Linked DNA regions of Homo sapiens: region 2 is linked to region 1. A link means that fine-mapping ties the variant in region 1 to the expression of a gene that starts in the linked region. Tissue or cell type: testis. Region 1 holds a variant in brackets; the other region holds the start of a gene. All regions are shown on one strand. Distances are from middle to middle.

What was found. PIP is the estimated chance that this variant, and not a neighbour inherited with it, causes the effect.
Region 2: it holds the start of HFM1, and the variant in region 1 is fine-mapped to the expression of HFM1 in testis (GTEx, PIP 0.98).

Annotation. Positions count from the first base shown.
Region 1 is chr1:90,621,698-90,629,807 of GRCh38, forward strand. No RefSeq gene overlaps it. Among named protein-coding and RNA genes, the nearest start is that of SNORD3G, 32 kb to the right of the region's middle. The variant G/A (reference allele first, on the strand shown) is at 4,768.
Region 2 is chr1:91,400,172-91,408,281 of GRCh38, forward strand. It overlaps HFM1 (helicase for meiosis 1), which reads right to left and starts at 4,666. Exons shown (of 39, transcript NM_001017975.6): 1 at 4,627-4,666; 2 at 841-938. The coding sequence starts at 911. RefSeq lists a silencer at 4,261-4,640.

The DNA of each region.
Region 1 (8,110 bases):
ATGCAAAGCCCATTTGTTTCATGACCAGCCATTTTTCAAATTCTCAACCTCAATTCTTGTTTTATTTCACTCTGCACACAACTCTAAATTAGATTGTAAACAAGGACCTGTGAGGAAACAGAATCAAACACAACTTTCATAATTATTAGAAGTGTTCACTCTCATTAACAAGGGGTAATTGTTTCTGTTTTGTAAATTGATCTAAGATGAAAGGAGTTAGTTAATAATTTACACTGTACTATGGAAAAGGGGCTGTGAAAAGACTCTACGGAAGGATTTGAATTAAACAGCCTTTCACCCTTTTAATATCTCACAAGAGATTCTTCTGCACTGGTTCATTTAATTTAGTGGACACCGCAGTGTGGCTCATTGATTGTGGACAAAACTTCTGAAGAGCCTGGTGTGCACCCCTGTTAAAACGTGGGAAGAGAGTAAAGTTGGATGTGAATTAATTTGATTCTGTACATAATTCTTTTTCAATGGGATTCTGTGTCCCATTGCAAAGGCATGAAAAAAGGAGACACTGAGTTTGATTGCTCAATATTCATCTACATTTTCCTCTCTATGGGCACAATATGCTTGGCTTAATTAACTTTTCTCAAAGGTGAAGCAGTGCGCACCATCTGCTGTGAGACAATCACATTTGTATGCCTCTCAGAATAATCCCTTTACTACTGAAAACAGCTATCATATAGTAGCCAAAACCAAAACTTTCAAACATTTTTGGCCTGGGAGAGAAAGACCAAATCCATTCTGGTCCAGAGGCACAGTGCTGGGAAACAACATTCAGCAGACGCAAAGGTTGTTTTTGTTACAGCCCAACTCCTTGCTCGCGGATGATTTTGAATTTACCTTGTCTTCCCTACACCACCAAATTAAAAATTCTACATGCTTCATTTAAAGCCCAGCTCAAGAACAACTGCACAGCGGGAGCATCCTCCTTTTCTCCTACCTCTTAATTTCAAACCAACAGAAGAATAGGAAAGTGCACCTTGAAAAGAATCATCAAGTCACTCAAAATCCCAATGCAAAATATTGAGGCAAAGTTTAGCCATTTAATTTTTTAATCAAGCCTCAAGGACCACACAGTGTTATCAAGGGCCTGCTGAACTTGCTCGAAAGCTGGGTCATTATTTGATCTTTGTGGCTGGTAATCTGATTATCTCATTGTGGAGGTAAACTTCAGACCCAATCTTGTTAGCAGCTGGCGAAGCTGGATTACTACAGCTACTGAACTGGAAAATGAACTGAGCAGTCCAGCTTTGGCCTTGCTCTCTTTGAGCCCACAGTTGGCTACTTCAGGGTATACACTTTTGCGTCTGAATCAGCACTTTATTCTAGAATTTCGCACCGCAGTGTAAACATATTCTCTAATGATAATGTCGAGCTAGGACTCTGATACACAGCACATCCTCACATACATACACCTATATTCCAGTGTGTATTCATATGCATACCAGCTCCAGAGCATCCAATACAGGTAATGCTCTGGTCAGAAAGGGATATGGCCCAAGATACTTAATGAAGGAAATTAATGAGCAGCATTCTTTGCTTTGAGATTCACACTCAACAGAGTTGCTAAATTATGCAAATACTCACAAGAGTTGTGTGGTCTCTGCTTAAGACACTTACAGTTTTGCTTGTGGTCTCACTGAGGCATTGACTGCTTTTACAGTGAATGCCCAGCCCCGTCAAAGCCCAGAAAGTCTTGAAACATAGCTTGAAAGAGTTCAAAGGATCTAAAAGACAAAAAAGGACTAAGCTGGGATTTTTATGTACACTGAAAAGAAGAATAAAATATAAGTTCCTTAATGCAGGCTGTTATGGCAATGTTACCCATATCAAAGCATTACGGTGCTCCGACGGAAGAGTGTTGAAAATTTTCTTGCGCACCATATGCAAAAGAGAAATAGGAACAATTTAGGCCGGCGGTGATTTTGTGACATGAAACATTGAATGCTCTTTTTTGACACACTATTGAGTGAACAAGGAATTCAAAGAGTTTGAACTCGAAGAAGTTTTCTGCCTCAATAAGCCATAATCAGCCCCGAAGAACTGAGTACTCCTCAGAGTAGTGGGGCTGCTCTCAAGGCTGCACAGGGTGGGTTTTGCTGGCTATTATTACGTGCATCAAAGCAAGGGCTCTTATGTGGCTTTCCTCTTATCAATTCCGCTAAAACCTCAAGTCTTTGGTGCGATTTCTGAAAACAGAAAGCTGATCAGCAGCATTCCCAAATATCAACATCTCACACAATCATCTCAGAACCACATTAGTATACAGAGCAAGTTAGACAGCAAAGCAGCTGAAAAAGAAGGCATCTTTGCTGAGTGTGTGATATCACGGACATTATTTAGTAGCACGGACAAAGGTCCTTGATTTATTTCCACAGTCTGGCGAATGAGGAAATCTTGCTATATGATTCGGGTAGAAGCTGCAAAGTGAATTTTACAAGAGATTGCTTGCTTGAAAAAGAATACCACCACCCCCCGCTTTTTTTCTCCTTGGAAAAGAATAGCCCCATTTAAAGTGCATTTTTGTATTTTCATTTATTTTTATTCTTCTCAGAACGTTTAATTCCTTTTTACAATTGTCTCTCTCAACATTTAAATTTAGATTTAACCAGAAAATGTGCAGAAATTCTTAATGTTGATATTTACCATGAAAGCTGGTTGTTTTTCAGCATCTAGTGATTAAAATTTCAATAGCCCAGTAAAGAAAATCAATTATCACTACTCCTTTTTGACATTTCTTTTAAGACAAATATATATACTTAAAATATATTTTTCAGCTTGTTAAATGATAAGCAAATTTATTACTACTAAAGTACTATAATCAAAATGCTTAATAAACCATGCTAATGTGACCATAGACAAAATAATAATCAACTATTTCTACACAAATTTACTCTAGTGTTTTATGCAACTAATTGCATCTATGTTTAAAAGCAATAACCAGTTTCTAGAATAATAACATGTCAATTTCTTAGCCATCAGGGACTGTGGCTATAGGATATGTTTCAACAGTGCAATCCAGCAAATGTTAAGAAGGGAAATTGAGCGGGAGAAAAAACATATTTTTTCAATAAGAGGTGAATGAATTTTTCTGCTGAGTTGTTTCGTCAAGCCCCAAAACTGTAATGTATGATTTTCCAAGAATGACAGGGGAGGGAGGATAAATTCTTATGTCTAAATTTAGATCTGAATTTGCAAGGAACACGTTTTAATTAAGCATGACATTTGACACAATCAGGTTTGAAGTTACCTGCCTATGCACCTTCACACCTGTGAAAATTGTTGTAAGTTCTCAGTGCAACTTAACATACAGCATCTTACATGCACAGCAGTCTACCTGTGATAGACCATTCAAGAGAGAATTTGTTCTTAAAGAATATGGATATGATTTATTTTCCTAATTGTCATTTTTTCACCTGTTCATAAAATGCTCTAAATTTTTCTTTGTTAGTATGTAGGTATATTTTAAATTTCCTGTATCCTTTTCACCAAGGTCTTTTACAGAGACCTTATCATCAAATGTTAGAATTAAACTTACTCACCTACTACTAAAAGTGACAAAATACATAAAAATAAAGGTGAAAAGACAAATTTATAGGAAATTTTAAAATCACCAAAACGTCATGCTCAATGTATAAATTTTTTCAATGTGTAATTTAACAATTAAGTTGTAAATTTAAAATAATTTAATATGAAATTTGTTTTTCTATTTGTTACCAGTATCTGGATAATATTACATGCACTTAAAATGAAGAAATATATTATGGAAACTCAGAATATAGCTTCCATTTGCTAAGGAATGGTAACATAATTCAAGATTCCAAAGATAAAGTATATGGAAATAAGCCTATCAGAACCTTATGTGACAAAATAGACTGAGCAAAGCAAATTTGACTTAAGAGTAGGAAATGAGTAAAGTTGCTCTTTAAGGAAACATACCTTCCCATTTAAAAAAACAACATAATATTTCCTCTCCACTTTTCTGTCTGTGTACGAAGCAGAAAAAATTTAATTAATGGTTTGTAATCCAAATAAGTGTCAATCTTTACGTACTTATCTTAAGAGGTCACTGTCATTCTAACAATGCTGTCATTGCTTCAGCTGTATTTTGAGAACTGCTTTAGAGTTGATTTCCAAACTTCCAACAAAATTAGGACTACTACTGCTTAATAGTCAAAAACCCAACTCTCTTTTATTTTAAAGAACTAAAATTACATTACCTATTTTGAATATCTTTCCAAATTATTCATCAAATTGGGCCCTGGATGACTTTGACTGTTTTCAAAATACGAAATCCTCTTGTGAAGAATGAAGGTGTACCATATTTTAGGACTTCACAGTTATGTTCCACGGTCTCCAACAGCAATCCACAAATAAGAGCGACGACATTGTTTAAATTACAGTAGTCAACATCATTGTATTAAGTACGGAACCACGAAGGTGGCAACTTTGACCAGGGTCACATTTTCTTGTCATCACTCCTTCACATGCATACAAGGGTATATAAGGAGGTAGTGTTTTATAAAGCACTTAGCACCACAAACATTCAATAAATCGTTGCTATTATCATTGTATTATATAATAAGAGATAGTTTTAGCAGTGGTGACTATAATCTCTCTATTGAATCAAAAAGACGAGATAATAATGGACAGTCTTCAGCACACTATGCTTATAAGAATATGGTTTCTGCATTGTTGGGGTTTTTTTTATTATGGTTATTTAAATACGGGAGCTAACTTTTCTCTTTGGCTAGA[G/A]GCATCCCCCTTACCTGTTCACTCATTACTCTGCTGATGGTCGTTGCCCTTCCCCCAAATTCTGTCACATCATTTAAATCTTTCTCCTGTATATATACTTTGTTTATCTTTGTATTCCTAGCTTGTAGTCTTCTAAATTCTGTTTATTATGTTGCTTGAGTTACTTATTTGGAGATCATGCCATCAGATAAGCTTGTATCACTTTTGACAAAAGCCACTGCAAAGCCAGTACAGGAGATGACGGCAGGTATAGTGTGATTTGGAGTAAGGCAGTGAGTAGATACTGTTGTGTTCCACCCAAATCCCCTCTTCAGGGTTGATTTACTCATCCTTCAGCTACTGGGGGATTTAACACCAGCAAACAATGGTAACACACTGCTAGACTGTTCCCTAGAAGTTTGGAAAATCAATGGCTCACACTAAGTAGAAATTACAGAATTGCTATATTATTGAGGGGGAAAAGAATTTAAAATATCAGAGTAGGCCGGGCACAGTGGCTCACGCCTGTAATCCCAGCACTTTGGGAGGCCAAGGCGGGTGGATCACGAGGTCAGGAGATCGAGACCATCCTGGCTAACACGGTGAAAACCCATCTCTACAAAACATACAAAACATTAGCCAGGCGATGTGGCGGGCGCCTGTAGTCCCAGCTACTCGGGAGGCTGAGGCAGGAGAATGGCGTGAACCCGGGAGGTGGAGCTTGCAGTGAGCCGAGATCCCGCCACTGCACTCCAGCCTGGGCGACAGAGCCAGACTCAAATAAATAAATAAATAAATAATAAAATAATAAATAAAATATCAGAGAAAGGGGTATGTTAGAGTGGATATGCTATGTGAAGCCAGAAAACCTCCCAGACAACTGTTTATGAAAAGGCCCAGAGTATACTCCATTTACCAAAGTTATTGATATGAAATGTAGTAGATAAAGAAACACCTGCATCATTGAGAAGCTCAGTGGTATACAGGCCAGGGCTGATAGCAAGAGGTATTGCCAGAGCAGGGATTATTCCAGAATCCTGATAAAAGAGGCCAAGTGATGACACTTAACCATCAAAACCAAGGTGAGCACAATTATTTTGATGAATTGCAAGATTGGAATGGCAACTAGGGCTCCTCAACCCTCAGAGAAACATGGAGATGGTTCCTGGAACACAGTGTTCATAGAGGCAAAAGAAGTGGGCAGACAATAAGGATATTGCTTAATTTATGCTCTTTTTTAAAAAAAAAAATCAAGGATGAATGTTTAGATGATCAGAAAGCTAAAGGCAACTACTCTGGTAAAGTCACAATTTATTGTCCAGACCCAAGCCAGTTCTCAAATTCAGAACCTATTGACTAAAGGAAACACCAGGTCCCTATGAGGATGAACGCTACAACATTGCATCAAACGTATTCAGTAGCAATTCTCCCAGTCCTTTCCTAAAGGAATTGATGGCCCATTTACTTGGGTAACCATGTTTTGGAGAAAGCGGACTACTCAGACCTTTCCAGGATTATTAACGCAGGGTCTAAAATGTCATTGATATCTGGGGAATCAAAGCACCACCATGGCTTGTTTTAGAGGGGGAACATAGGGGGCAAGGTAATAAATGAGGTTGTGGCATGGTTCTGGCTCAGGTTGAGTCCACTCAATCCACTGGGTACTTCAACCCACCTAGTGATCATTTCCTGGTCCCCAAATACCTAATTGGATGTGCTGAGGCCTCAGCTGCAACTGCTCTGTGGGGCAGTTCGTCCTGCCCAATCCTGCCCTCCTCACTTCCTTACAGGGTGACTACTCAGACCAAACCCCAAGATAATTTCTTTATACAAGTCTCCAGTTCAGAATCAGTTTCAGGGAATCCAATCTAATTCAGTAAGTTTAAATCAGTCTTTATAAATGAAAATATTGAATTTTTGTGGGGTGAGCTGATAGTTTAAAAAATCAGACCAATGTGTCACCATGTTGACTTAAAAATGTTATCTATGAGTTTATGTCTAATTCCTGAAGAAGCCTGTTTTTAAAAACAGGAAAAAACATTTAATGTATATACATACCATATGACTGCATTTACACAACATTCTTGAAATTGCAGCTATAGGAATAGAGCACAGATTAGTGGTTACAGAGTTAAAAGAGTGTGGGGGAGGGAAGGAAGTTGAGGTGGCTATAAAATGGCAACATAAGGGAAACTTGTGTGACAGAAATGTGGGTATTGACTATCATTGTCGATGTTCTAGTTGTGACATTGTACTGTAGTTTCACAAATGGTTACCATTAGGAGAAAGTAGGTAAAGAGTATATGGGATCTCTTTGTATTATTTCTTTTTTTTTCTTTTTTTTTTTTTTTGAGGTAGAGTCTCCCTCTGTTGCCCAGGCTAGAGTGCAGTGCTGTGATCTTGGCTCACTGCAGTCGCCAAACCTCCACCTCCCGGGTTCAAGCGATTCTTCCGCCTCAGCCTCCCAAGTAGCTGAAACTACAGATGAGTGCCACCACGCCAGGCTAATTTTTGTATTTTTAGTAGAGATGGGGTTTCACCATGTCAGCCAGGCTGATCTTGAACTCCTGACTTCAAATGATCCACCCGCCTCAGCCTCCCGAAGTGCTGAGATTACAGGTGTGAGCCACCGTGCCTGGACTCTTCGTATTATTTCTTAAAACTGCATGTGAACCTACAATTATCTCAACATTAAAAGTTTAATTTAAAAATATAAATGTATGTATGTGTCTATGGAAAACATTAATGAACAGCTTTTTATAAATTGAGCTTGAATGAATGAGGTTATTCTAGGTTATTGGTTAATAGGTCCAAAACACAGAATAAAGTAAAAAATAATATGAAAGATTAGACTTTTGCAAATGACAGTTTACTAGTTCCATTAGGAATCTTCCTTCAATCATAGAAGTAGGCATGCTCTAAAAAGTTTTCAAGGGGCTTTATGAATAGGAATAAACATTTGGATTTATCTAATGTACACTTTTTGAATTTTCTTATACTATCTGAAAAAAATCTATAGCCAATACGTTTGTCTTACACATCTTAATGAAGAAAAGAAGTTTCTGAAATTTATGCCTGCTTCTGAAAAAACCTCTAAGCCAATAGAAATTGAATTAAATTGACACTGACAACAACTTTTAAATTCAGTCAGTAGAATTTTGAGACTGAGCATGGCATAATTTTTAAAGATTGATATTAGAGGAAGGGGAGAGATGGATAGACAGAGATAGAGAGACAGAACAAAAAGACAGAGACAGACAGATATCTAATTGAAGAGAATCCGATTCTGCACAGTTCATGAAAGCTTTTTCTCAAGATCCACAACAAGACAAGGATGCCCAATCTCATCATTTCTATTCAACAC
Region 2 (8,110 bases), 780 kb after region 1:
AAATACACAGAAAATTCAAAATTGAACAATGCACATGAAAATCCATAAAAGCCAGTATTTAACATACTACCTACTCTCTAGTCTTGTTTTCTTTGGTCTCACATCTTTATTCCCGCCCCTACTTCCTGCCAGCATTTAATGTGCCTATCATACTTTGCCTTTGGCATACTGTCCATTCTGTTTCCAGATGGTGACGTCATTCCTTGTCCTGAGCTACTCTTTGAGCATTATTTCCCATCTTTAGCTTGGCCAAAAATAATCTGAACAAACCAGAAATACAAATAAATGCAAGCCAAATAGGCAAGAATCTTTTTTTTTTTTTTTTCTTTTGATAGAGTTTCACTCTGTTGCTCTGGCTGGAGTGCAGTGGCGCCACCTTAGCTCACTGCAACCTCCGCCTCCGGGCTTCAAGCAATTCTCATGCCTCAGCCTCCCAAGTAGCTGGGATTAGAGGCATGCGCCACCAGGCCTGGCTAATTTTTTTGTGCTTTTAGTAGAGACAGGGTTTCACCATGTTGGCTAGGCTGGTCTTGAACTCCTGATTTCAGGTGATTCACCCGCCTCAGCCTTCCAAAGTGCTGGGATTACAGGCGTGAGCCACTGCGCCTGGCCCAAATCTATTCTATTTTTAAAATTATAACATTTAAGATGTTAAACTTCAGTTACTCCCCTATACTACTGGTAAGAGAATTCCATGTTTACCAAATATGTAACTGAAATATCGTTCTGTTGATTCCTCATTTTTATTTGTATATTTACCAGAGAGAAAGCTAAAACTCACCCAAATTCAAAAAACCCTAAAGTAATATACTATGCTATCAATCTTTAAGGGAGACTTACTTTTCAACTTCATCTGGTTTTTCAAAAAACAAATTTTCCAAAGAAAACAGGCAATCATTTGATTTCAGCATTGTTGAAAACTGGACTTTGTCATAAATCTACAAAATATGGAAAAAGTAGTTTATATTTTATTTATAAAGATGTAAAAAAATATTTCTGTATAATCACTAATTTTCCACAGTCTCCTGTAAAATATAACCACAGACTATCCTTCCAGCTTCATCGTCTGCAACTTCCTTCAAAGCACCTCAATATTCACATACATTATTCTCTGTTTTCCATTCATTCATGGATTCACACTTGCTCCCTTCTCTTCATAGTGCTCCAATGCTTGGAATGTGTTTTCTGCCATTCTCCAACTGGCAAATTCCTAACCATCCTTCAAGTTATAGGTCAAATGTCATTTCTTCTTCAAAGGCTTTTCTGAATTTGTCTTCTTCCTCAAGGCAGAATTAATCAGTCTTCTTGGGCTCTTAATACTTTGTTCACACCATTATTTTCAAGTTAGGACAGCACATTTTATTGTGAATGTGTGCACCTCTAACAATATACTATGTACATATGCAGGGATTTGCTTCAAAATAAAGGGGAGAGATGAAGGAGTATTGAAATAATATTGACAATGAGTTGATCAAAGCTAAAGCTATGTAATAGGTACATGGGGTTCATTATAATATTTTTTCATAGGTTTGAACTTTTTCAAAATAAAAAAATTACAAGTTTAACATACATATGCATATTTATTTATATGAGTTAATGCATATACTACACACGTTTACATTCTTTTTTAAAAGATAATTTTTGCACTCAGAGATATTATCTAAACATAAAGGATAAAAACATTCAGCATTGGCCACCTTTGAACATAACAAAAATCTGGGGCTGAACAAAGATGCAAATGTGATTAAAAAAAAAAACTAGTCTCTAGATACATACATTGCTCCCATTAGAATTATTTTTCCCTGCATATCCTATTTTTTTCTAAATTCTTAAACATCATAGAACATTCTATATGACAAACCATAAAATCAGACGAACAAACTGTAAAACATAAATCACATTTCTGTTTCTTCTGTTTTAGTTAATACATTGTAAATTTGTCCTCAAGATAGAAACTACAATCAAAGAAATTCTATTAATGCCATCTAGTGGAGAAATACGCATTACCAAGTCAGATTATGTCTCTCCAATTTTGAATCCTCCTTGATGTGGGGATGAGATACAAGTGGGAGTGATATGGGGAAGGGAGAATGTTTCCACATACAACACTTGACAAATGCTACTGTATGAGAACTAAACCTGTATATATACTTCAGGGCTGTTCTTACTGATATAGAATATTGTGGGGTTTTTCACTGTTTTCGTTATTGGGTTCTTCCCCCTTCCATCTGTTTAATATAATTGCCCTCTTCATTTTTCTCTATCTATTAATCAGTTACCAACAAAAACAAGTAGTAAAAATGAAACAAACTAGTGTGGTTCTATAAATGTCTAAAACAATTTGACTATACGAAAAATAGAAGCCTAGGATAATAGGGCAGGAGGTAGAGGGAGTCATTCAGAAATATGCGAAGTCTTTAACAGCTTTAAGTAAACAATTTCAGAACTTGAAAACAATTATCTGAAAAAGTATAAATGAAAATGTTAATCATGTTTTTATATTGCCCAAAAAGTAACAAATAAAATGTTCCCTTTCTAGTTTTAGGAAAACTATGTTCAAACAAAAGAAACTTTTCCTAAAATAAACCTCACCAGACCAGTTTCATATGGCTTTGCTACCTCAGAATTTAAGTCAAAAATCTTAAGGCTAACATTTATACACTTGAATACTTTCTTCCTAAAGCAACTACAAATAGACAACAAAACTACAAATTTAAAACATTTGGGAAGAAAAGCGTTGCATAAACTGACAAAAACCTCCTATACAAACAGCAAATATTTTCAAAAGAATTTTTGATTTCTAGTTCTAGCATACAAGAATATAACTTGTTTGGGTTCAGAATAAAAATATCATGTACATATTTTAGTTCTTATATACTCCTGTGAAAAAACACCCCTTATCTAAAACTGCATCCTCTCATTCCGCATTATTTTTCTTCATAGCATGAACTGATAACTAACATTATAGTATATGCTTAGTTGTTTATTATGTTTCTCCCTTTAGAGCAAGCAGGGACTTTTTGCTCATTAATGTGTTCCAATAACCCAGAATAGTGCCTGGCACACAGTAAATGGTCCATAAGAATGCATTGTGGAATAAATGCATTAGCAAGAACCAGTTTATAAAAATAGTGTCAAATAAAAATAATTTTCTGTTAATTTAGAAACTTAAAATTTGAGCCCCAATCTTCAACGTTCAGTTAAAAAATGTGAAATTTTTTTCTAGTTCAGGATTTATGTAAATAAAATCATGAAGGTTCTAAAAGATGATGAATTTGGCACTTTCATTATGTAAATCTTTTTTTAAAAAAGAAACACAGGTCCTAAAAGGGACCTTGCTACAGTTCAGTATGAGTTTGTGATGTGAGGGGATGCTATTTTAAATTAATTAAAGTTCTAGGTTTAGATTCAGATTTTTTAAGTTCCTATTATTTATTATTAAAGTTTTAGTTTCAGCACGTGGCACAAAATTAGATTGCCAAACACAATAAACAATATCATCCCAGGTAGTTTTAAGTGTCTGCTCTGCTATAATCACTGTTAAAATACTTAAGCTATTTTTGAGTCTACATAATTTGCGGTGCCGACCTTCTCTAGTTATATTAATGACAATCTCTAGTTAAATATTAATACAACTAGATACAATTAATCTTTAGTTATATTAATGACAATTCACCATTTTGTCTTCTGTAATCTTTACTTATTGTATAAAATTATTGTATACAATTATTGTATAAACTTATTGTATAAAATTGCAGGCCTATTACTTCTTACAATTTTTACTCAGAAACATACTCCTTATTTTAAAAGTACAGAAACTCAGATAAAAATTATTGATTTGCTAGAAATTTTTGTGAGTTAAGGAAGAAGTAGGGACCAACATTTACGGGAATAACCGACCGTCACAAATAACTGCAGAGAATCTGACAAAGAAGGAAAAATCAACGGGAACAAATTACTCCGAGGCTCGGCCTGGGAAAGGACCATACAATTGTCGGAGCCCCAGATCTCACCCCCTCTCCCCAGGCACCAACAGGGCTGGCTGGAAGGGTCCGGCTGGGGACCGAATCAGCACCTAAAGCAAAATAACAGCTCTGTGGATTTCCTAAGGAGAATATCCTAAATCCAAGGCAGAGGCCTTAGGGCCCCGAGAGTGGCACAAGAACGGGGCGCTGGGGCGCGTCACTCCACCCCCCGGGTCCCGTTTCCTCCCACCGCTGTGAAACCCGCGGCTCAGACAGATGGGTACGTCCCCCCCAGCGCTCGCTCAGGGGGCGCCACACACCGGAACACAAGACACAGGAACCGAACACCAATCAGCCGACTTTAGGGGCGGGCCGGACGCCCAGCCGGTCCCACCTCGCGGGGAGCTGGGCCCGCCCTGCGCCCGAGCGCGCCGCAGGCCTCACCGCTTTCTGACTGGAAATGCGGCTGAGGCGCTGGCGCGGGCCGGCGGCCTGGAGACGCCTGGTGACCAACAACTCGCCGCGCCCGTCCGCTGCCTGCCCGGCAGACGGCTCTAGAGATCGACCGCTGCCCGGACGGCTCGGCTGGGTCCCCACTTCCCCGCGGGCGTCGGGCCCCCGTCCCCACCTTCCCCGCGGGCGTCCGGGCCCCTCTCCTCACCTCCCTGCGGACAGCTCCTAGGCCAGTCGAGCGCCGATTTATCAGCCCCTCTGAGGACCGCCAAGCCTGGCTAAGCCGAGCTCCAAGCAATGGATCGCCCAAGCCCCCAACCTCTCCCTTCCTACCTTTTTTTCTCCGAAAGTTTATAACTGGTTTTGAATATATCTCTTGCAGTTTACTGTGTCTATTCTCTTTAAATACAGCTCCTAATCCTGGGTTCTAAGGGTCTACTAAATGGTACCCTTTCCCTAAGCTAACCTGCTTCTCTACCCCCACAACCACCACTCCACAAACATACCCCAACCTGCCTTTCTCATCAAAGTTAGCCAGGCCTCAGCTCTGGGACTTCCGGTCTCTTCGTACCTAAAAAGTGTTTTACCTATATTATTTATAAAATATCACAGTGGCACTCATGAGGTCGGTATTACTGGGGAACTTGATTCAGAAATAAAGTTAAATTTCAGAAATAAATATTCTAAAACACAATGATATTTAAATGTGTTTAGCCAACATGAATTTATAAAAACAGGGCAATAATGTGTTCTTAGGCTGTAAACATGAACAAACTATAAATTATCCTTTTAAGTTTCTTTAGAATTGTCCTCTGAAGATTTGGCAGGGAATGTTTTGTAGATGATAAAATAGCAACGAATCAATGATGCTTTTCTTACAGAGACATTTATCTTTCCTTTGGAAACCCCCACCTGTGACATCTAGGGCCAACCTACTGCTGTCTGACTGCCCTATTCCTGTTCTCTTTTTTCTTGCAGTTCTACTGTTCATTAGCTATATGACCTTGGAAAAGACCCAACCTTTAAGTCTTAATTCTGCATCCTCAGTGATACTCATAAGCTCTAACTCCTAGATACTGCTGCAAGGGTTAAATAAAATAATATTTGCAGTAGTCCTACCACACAGTAAATGCTCATGAATATTAATTTCTTTCACCTTCTCTGAAATGTAAAATTATTCCAGTAATTGGGTGAGCCAGTTATTTGGATACTGATAAAATAACAAGTCTTTGTCTCTTGGAGAAAATAACATTTTGACTGCATAAACTATTCTTAATAGAAAGGTTGAATTATCATTCCTCTCAAAAATACTGGAGAGGAAAGTTACTTTCCATAGACTGCATAGAGGAAAATAACGAAACAGTGCATTTGTTATAGTGAACCCCTCAATGTGTTGAAATTCATACATTGAATTCTAACCCCCGATGTGATGATATTTGAACGTGGGACTTTTGTGAGGTAATTAACTCAAAAGGGTAGAGCCTTCATGAGTAGGATTGTGCCCTTTTAAGAGGCCAGAGAGTTAGCTCGCTCTTTTCCTACCATGTGAGGATACAGGAGGACGGTATCTGCAAGCCAGGAAGGAGGCCCTCGCCAAATACCGGATCTGCCTGCACTGTGATCTTGGACTTCTCAGGCACCAAAATTGTGACAAATGTTTGTTGTTTAAGCCACCCAGCCTATGGTAATTTGTTATAGCAGCTTGAACTAAGATAGGGTTTGAGTGATAGAATTGTAGAATTCAGCAACAGGCAGGTACAGGGGAGTCTTACTGTCAAAGCACACAGTAGCAAATGGCCACCATGTTCATAAACAAAAACATTCATTCATTCACTCACTCATTTATTCAAGAATGCATGTGGAATCTATAGAGCCTTACTTTCTCTTAAAATAATGTAATAAAAATGTCAAAGCTGCAGTTTTTAAAAGGAAGCCTCAGGACAGTGATAAAGTTACTAAAAATCCCATTTTGGGGGGAGGGATTACCATGGTTTTTAGTAATGTTGCCACATTTCTCAAGAAAACATTTTAATCCTAAAGATTTAATTTTACAACCAGTGCAACAATGTCATAAGCAATCCTCCAAATTGAATAACATAACTAACATTTGAAATATAGTCTTCCCGGTCAACTTCTGGCATGACTGCATAAAGAGCTTTGCTACCTCACTTCTCAGTGAAACTGGTGAAAATTCTAGAAAAATGACTCAGACCCTCTGGAAATGATCCTAAGGGCAAACAGCAAAAGAAGAAACATCTTTTCAAGAAAGAGATACAAAAATTTGGTAAGAAAGGCAAGGCTCTGTGGTATTTTATCCAAGACTCCCAAGTTCCAGCTTAGCAAGACAGGCTCCATTCTAGACAGCTGCAGCCAAGAATACAGAGCTCTCTCTGCACCCAGCTCCCACTAGAAGGCGCGCTTTCTTTCTTTCATTGTGGTAAAACATGCGTAATATTTATAATTTTAACCATATATAAGTGTATAATTCAGGGACATTAAATACACTCATAGTGTTGTATAACCATCACTCTTATCCATACCCAAAACTTTTTCATTATCCCCAACAAGAAATTTGTGCCCATTCAGGGAGGGGAACTTCACACACTGGGGCCCGTTGGGGGGTGAGGGGCTGGGGGAAGGATAGCATTGGGAGAAATACTTAATGTAAATGACGAGTTGATGGGTGCAGCAAACCGACATGGCACATGTATATCTATGTAACAAACCTGCACGTTGTGCACATGTACCCCAAAACTTAAAGTATAAGAAAAAAAAAAAGAAATTTCTGCCCATTAAACAGGAACTCCTTCTTTTCCCCTTTCCCTAATTCCTGGTAACCTCTATTCTACTTTCTATTTCTATGAGTTTACCTATCCTAAGTACTTCATATAAGTGGGATCATACAATATTTGTTCTTCTATTTCTGGATTATTCACTTAGCATAATGTTTTCAATGTTCATCCATGTTGTAGCATGGATCAGAATTTTACTCCTTTTTAAGGCTCAATAATATTCTATTGTATTTATATACCACATTTTGTTTATCCATTTGTAATCCTGGCTAAGGGACATTTGAGTTGTTTCCACATTTCCACCTTTTGGCTATTGTGAATAATGCTTCTATGAACATTCGTGTGTAAATATCTCCGTTCAAGTCCCTGCTTTCAATTCCTTTGGATATGTACCTAGGAGTGGAATTGCTGGGACATATGGTAATGCTATTACAGCCAATGCCATGAGTTCTAGCTGATGTATCCAACATAACCAAAATTTTCTTCACTTTGTAACATCCACATCTTTTACACCCTGATTAGTCAGTAGAAATTGATATTGAAAAATTAGTCTCAGGCTGGGCAACACAGCGAGACTTCATCTCTACCAAAATTTTAAAAACTAACCAGGTGTGGTGGTGTGTGCCTGTAGTCCTAGCTGCTTGGCAGGCTGAGGCAGGAGAATGGCTTGAACCAAGGAATTCCAGGCTGCAGTGAGCTGTGATCCCACTACTGCACTCCAACCTGGGCAATAGAGCAAGATCCTGTATCTAAAAAAGCAAGAAAGAAAAAAGAAAAATTAGTGTTGATGGCTCTAGAGAAGCAGGAACCAAGAAATGTTGAGGTTTCAAGACTATTTTTCTGCAGATGACAGCCAGAAATGTGTTGTGTTTTTTATTGTCAGATTTGGACAAGAAACAG